Regions from separate parts of the Homo sapiens genome. Here region 1 is linked to region 2. A link means that fine-mapping ties the variant in region 2 to the plasma level of a protein whose gene starts in the linked region. Region 2 holds a variant in brackets. A gene starts in the other region. All regions are shown on their reverse strands. Region 1 holds the start of SCGB3A2 (secretoglobin family 3A member 2). Region 2 holds the start of OTX1 (orthodenticle homeobox 1).

The links. PIP is the chance, under the fine-mapping model, that this variant and not a neighbour inherited with it causes the effect. Protein levels are from antibody-based Olink assays in UK Biobank. Linkage for the fine-mapping came from a reference panel and not from the study's own genotypes, which makes the PIPs less certain.
Region 1: SCGB3A2 starts here. The variant in region 2 is fine-mapped to the plasma level of the SCGB3A2 protein (UK Biobank, PIP 0.93).

The regions. Positions count from the first base shown.
Region 1 is chr5:147,877,179-147,880,084 of GRCh38, reverse strand. SCGB3A2 (secretoglobin family 3A member 2) reads right to left here and starts at 1,374. Exons shown (of 3, transcript NM_054023.5): 1 at 1,227-1,374. The coding sequence starts at 1,281.
Region 2 is chr2:63,049,245-63,052,150 of GRCh38, reverse strand. OTX1 (orthodenticle homeobox 1) reads right to left here and starts at 1,321. Exons shown (of 5, transcript NM_014562.4): 1 at 1,254-1,321; 2 at 834-902. RefSeq lists a silencer at 1,296-1,955 and enhancers at 2,072-2,819, 2,820-2,906, 2,183-2,906. The variant G/C (reference allele first, on the strand shown) is at 1,443.

The DNA of each region.
Region 1 (2,906 bases), not on the chromosome of region 2:
TATTTCCCCATTCAAATTATTAAAATGGAGCCTGTATATATTTTTTTAAATTTTCAATCACCTATTGTCCCTCCAAAATTCTCACCCAGAGGGGGCGGTATTTATTTTCCCCACCTCCTTTCTGCTGCCACTTTGCCCATAGATACCTGTCCCTGGACATTAGAGAACAGTGAAATATCCAAAACTGGTGAAGTTACAAATTCCTTCAGAAATTCAATAAACATCAAAAGCCAAAGTTGCCATTGTAGGTGTGGGCGGCAATCAATTTTTCATTATTAATCTCCATACTTCTTATTTCAGACATTTTGGTAAATATCTTCTCTGTATGTGTTTACAGCTTCCTGGGAGAAGATCTTCAAAGCCTTCTGTTCTCTCAATGAGCAGTGGCTATCATGAAATCTCTTTTTCCCATGTGCCCACACTGTCTTCCTGATAGTTACAATGATTCCTTCCAAAAAAATAAATCAGTTCCCATTCTCCTCCAAGAAGCCAGCTTCTATACCCTTACCTGAAAATTAAACTAATCACCCACCAATACACTAAAAGAGTTCTATCTGGATATCTCACAGTACGTTTACAGTAGTCTAGAATTATAGTAACTTAGGCAGAAGCCCTATCTATCCTACCAGAGTAGCACCTTAAGAACAATATTTATGACTGCTTCATGTCTAAATCTTCCAATGCCTATCCAGTGCCCAACAAATTGTAGCCATTCAATAAATATCCATTGAGTGGATAAACAGATGAATGTAGCTATCTCAGGAGAACCAAGCTAGCAAATTGGATAACTGGAGATGATAGCAAGAATGACTCCATATAGTTCAAAAGCACAAAAGAAATTATAAAGTCAAATTTTAACTCAAAATTGAGGAAAATAAGAAAAACGAATGGTGACCAATATCCAGCAGTGAAATGTGCTTTGTTGACCCTCCGTGGAAGTTGGCTAACTTCCTATGTAGGATGTATTAGAATACTTATATTGGGCTAGAGCTTAGATGGTGGGGATCTGAAATACTTTCCAACATCACCATTTTCTGTGATTCCAAAACTTCTTCCAACCCTGCAAATATGTGCAATTATTATGTGTCAGTTAAAAGTAAAATAAAAAAAAATACAATTCCTACCACCATATTCCACTGTCAGTGAGGCAAGGCTTACTAGTTGTGCTCTTATTAACAGAAAAGTAAAGAAATGTCACATATTCCAGATGTATTCCAGTTACTTACCAGAGTAACTACAAAGGCTGATGGTCACCAGCAGGAAGATAGTTACCAGCTTCATGACAGTTATCTGGGATATTTTTCAGGAGTTTAAAAATCAGAAAAATCTAGCAAAATCCACCAAGCCAGTGGTTCCACTTGCCATACAAAGTGTGATGGCTGCTTTTGCACACACATATTTATATGCCCATTGAGGACCTGAATTCTAGTCCCTACCACTTGACTCACCCCACCAAAGAAAGGGATAAATGTTATGTTTTCTCACCAAACAATTTGGAGGGTTTTCCACTTCCCCGTGTGTTCCCATGAGAAACAAAGCTCTACAGTACAGCATTCTCAAGTACCTCTTGCATAAACCCTTGCACAGAAATAAAAGCAGAAGGCAAAGAGCCCAACGAATCCTTCTCCTGGAAGAACATTGAAAAGAAGTGAAGAATTTATATTTGGATTAGAAGGAGTGTTTTCCTCTGGTTTTCTACATTTTTCCCCAGTTTTCTAATCATTTAAAGTTTGGAGAATCACATTAGCTGATGAACTACCCAGTTGTGAAAGCAATCTGGAGGCCACTCTGGTATAATACAGAGTCAGCTTCATGACATTTAGTGCCACATTTCTCTGGAATTCACCTGCCCCCAGCCCACTCACACATCTACTATGGTAAGATTTTCACACCTCTGTTACCTTTTCCAGTGTCAGTTACTTTGAGTATGTTCAGAGCATGTCTTCTCTGAGCCTTTGGATAGAATAATAGGCTTAAGATCTAAAATCAGAGTGTCTTTTGAAAAACCTGGGATTCAATTTTCACTGTTTGTGTAATCTTGGATTTGACATTTTTAATCTAGGATATTGGTCCTCTCATCTAAAATGGGAACATAAATAACACAACCAACCATAAGGTGTGTAGCTTGGGGAAAAAATTGTTTTTGCAAGATTCTTTGGCAATCAAATCCGATAAAATCATTCAAAAATACGTAATTGTAAGGTACTGGCTACAGGAGTAGTAATTTGTTTCCAAGGCTGTCTTTCTGGATCCAGGGTTCAGCCACAGGACCTCAGGACAACTTCATTTGTGAGCAGAAGTCCTGGAGTTCTTTGGGGCATCGAGTGGGCCCGACATGCAAGGAAGAGGGTAAGAAAGAACCATGAAGGGGTGAAATAGAAAGCGGAGTCCATATGGGCACAGGACCAGCTCAGGGCTCCCCGGCCACGTGGTACTGCTGGCTCCAGCCATTCCCACCACCAAAGTGGAACCCAGAAAATTTTGAGAAAACACACCTTAAGATGTAAGGCCAGAGGTTGGGGCTTTATTTGTCCTCATCTGAGGGTGTGGTATTGTAATGAAGATCTAATAAAATTATGCAGACAGAGCATTCTGCTATGCCAAACCAAAATTAATATCTAATTTATGTCACATTTTACTAATTTTTATGTTACCATGTTGTAACTGTCATTTCTTTATCTTTCTGCTACTTTATAAACTACTTTATAAACTACATGAAAGACACCATGAATGCCTGCCATGCACCTCAATCCTGCCACTTCTCCTTCTTTCTCTACCAGTACTGCTTCCATTTCTCCCACATATTCCCACTGATGCCAGTGATATTAATATACCAAGCCCCTCAAAGAGCCAAGGTTGGTGGTAAGATTGATGCCGTTGCCGGAGGAACAGGGTCCAGCTGCTTG
Region 2 (2,906 bases):
TCCTTCGTTGCCAGCGCGCACCCGGCCTTCTCTCTGCCCAGTCTGGGCTGCGGACCGCAGGGTCCCAGCAGGGGGTGAAGGGTGACTGGCCTAGCACCTCAAAGGGTCTCGGGGATTTGTGAAGCCGGAGGGCAGCAAGTCGCGTGCTGCCATCCTTGTAGCTGAACCCGCGGCCCCAGGACACGGTCGAGAACAGAGAACTAGGCCTCAGCGGCGTAGCCCACGCAGACCCGAGCTGGGAGGTCGAAGCCTCGCCCCCGCCGCTGCCGGGAACCCGGGGTGCCACTCTCAGGGGTCAGGGAGGGGCGCTGGAAACTGGGCCTGGGGCCCTGGGGGGCCATCGCTACACCCCGCTTAGCGGGATCGCTGTGAAGCAAGCCAGGGACTCGGGCTAGGACGTTCAAGGAGAGAAGTTAGAGCTAAAGAAGCTCCCCCCAGCCCCGTTCCCGCCCCCGTCTTCTGGGACCCAAGACCTGGGCTGAGGGAGTCCAGCTTGTAGGAAGGGGACCGGAAGGGAAGCAGCCAGGGCTCTAGGGCCGAAGGAAAATGGGACTCAAAGCTGCGACGGCTTTGCGAAGCTGCAGCGTGAGTTTTCAAAGACTTTCTCCAAACTTAGCACTTCAGCTTGGTTACTTCGGAGGAGGCGGGGGAGGGGGCTGCGGGCCGCGACAGCGCCCCGGGGTCCTCGGCTCACCAAGAGGGGAGCCAGGCCGCTCCCACAGCCCCGACCACCTGCTGGGGACCGGGGAAGCCGGGATCCATTTGAGGAGGGGGAGATAAGGGTAACCAACGCGCTCCCGGAGTCCGGGGTGGCCCCGCGGCTTTCTCCTTACCTGCCCTCAGCTGCCGGGGCCGTTCACCATCTACCTGGATCTCTCACAGAGACCCGCCGGGCAGCCAACCTGCAAAACAGAGCAGCACTGGAATTACCCTGGCGGCTGGTCTAGGACCCCCAGGTTTCTTTCTTTTCCCAACTTCCTTCTTCCCACCTCTATCTTTTTTTTCAATGGCTTTGTGCGTGTCCTTCTGGGTTTCACTTTATTGCACAGACACTTTGTTTGCTAAGCCCCACACGTTCTCAGGACATTGCCTCGCCTGGGATCGCGCCGAGGGGCCGCAAGGGGGGGAATTCGAGGGGCAGAGTTGGGAGGTGGCTCGGCGTTGCCGCGGCACTCCCGGTGCAACGTGGAGGCAGTGGGGACTGGGAAGTCCTGCAGAGTCACTTTGCAAACTAAATAAATCAAGCGATTTACCTTGTCGGAGTGGCTTGTCTTGCTCGGTTGTTTAGGTGATTGGAAATGTAGCCTGATGAAGATTGATCACCTTTCTACTGCCCTCCCCGGGTATGTGAACGCGAGGCGAGTGCGTAACGGGGCTAGGCCGCCAATCGGGGGCCCCGCGCGGGCTGAGTGACAGGGAGCCGGGCAATGGCTGCGCGAGCC[G/C]GGGGTTACCTCCGCGCGCCCCCGCCCTCCCCCGCCCCCCACACCCCGCCCTCCCCGCCCTCCCGCCCCGCCCCGGTCGCGCGCTAACTCCGGGACTCGGCTGGCAAAAGCGGCGCAGAGCTAGGCGAGGAAGGCGAGCGGAGAGCCCGAGTCCTGGCCGCGGAGGGGGCCGTGGGTCTCCAGGCCTGCCCTGGGCGCCCCCGCCCTTCTCGCGCTCTCGGCGCTCCGGAGGGAGTGGCAGGGAGGAGGCGAGGTGCTGGAGAACCGGTTCCTTCGCTCTCCCGCGCGCTACAGGGCTCAGCCGCTCGGGTGTGGGCGCCAGGACCCGGGGGCGGCGGGCTGGAGGAGCCCGGGCCTCGGCCCCTCTCCCGGCGCCGCGGGCCCCAGCGTTTTCTTCCCCGGCGCCGCCACCTGAGACCGACGCCGCGGGCTGCTCGTGCCGGCGCAGGCTACTTTGCAGAGCGCGGGAGCAGCTCCGGGCGTGCAGATCTCTCCTCGGCCCCTCCGGACTCTCGCGCCTGGGAAGAGCACCCACTGGGAGGGCGCCGCCACTTACCTGCTTGCTCGTCGGCATCTCCCGGGGTTCCAGGTCCCCACCAAGGGTGTTTGCAAGTCTTAAGCGCTTCTACTGAAACGTTGGAGCCCAGCGTCCTCTTCCCCTCACACGTACACCCTACTTCTTAATTGAAACATTTTGATAGGAAAGTTTCTTTTTCGCTCTTTCTCTCTCTTTCTTAGACTGCCTCTAACAGGGACTTTTTGATGGAAAATGTGGCCACAGACCCCTGCCCTCAACTTTTTTCCACATGCTGCGTAAGGATCCTCCTTGAGGCGATTTCCCCGGATTGTTCGTACGGGCGAAGCCCATTTCCCACCCGAAAAAACTTCCCAAACACGTCTACCTGGGTGGACTTTTAAAAGTGCAAAAAAGAGTTTTCGTTCCAACTCTAAGCTAGGCGAATCTTTTAAATGGCACCTCCTCCTGAAAATTAGGCACTTTATTCCCTTTCGAGGAATTTCTACCCCTTGTTTCTAATCTCCCCCACTCCCCCACCCCGACAGGCGGGGTAAAAAGTTTGCACAGGATTAAGTGTGAGGGCAAGTCAAGGAGCCTCCAGGCGCATCGCAGTGGGGAGCACTCGCGCTGCCCGGGCTGCGGGGTCGGGCGCCGAGAGCGGACCGGGCGCTGGGTGAGGAGGAGGAGAACGAAGGGGGAGCCCGCTGAGTGAAAAGGGGCCGCGGCCGCCGCTCATCAAAGTGCTTCCCCCTCCCCCAAGCGACACTTTCCTTTGGAGTCCGAATAAAATACGGTAACAGAATATGATGGAGGGCACACTGTTTCCTTAACTGCTTCTCAAAGGACCCGGGAGATCTTCTTAGGACCTTTAATAAGGCTTTGGTCGGTTCTTTTGTTGATCTCTCAAAATCAACTCCTTCTAATTGAAGTTGGAGCTGAAAGCGAGC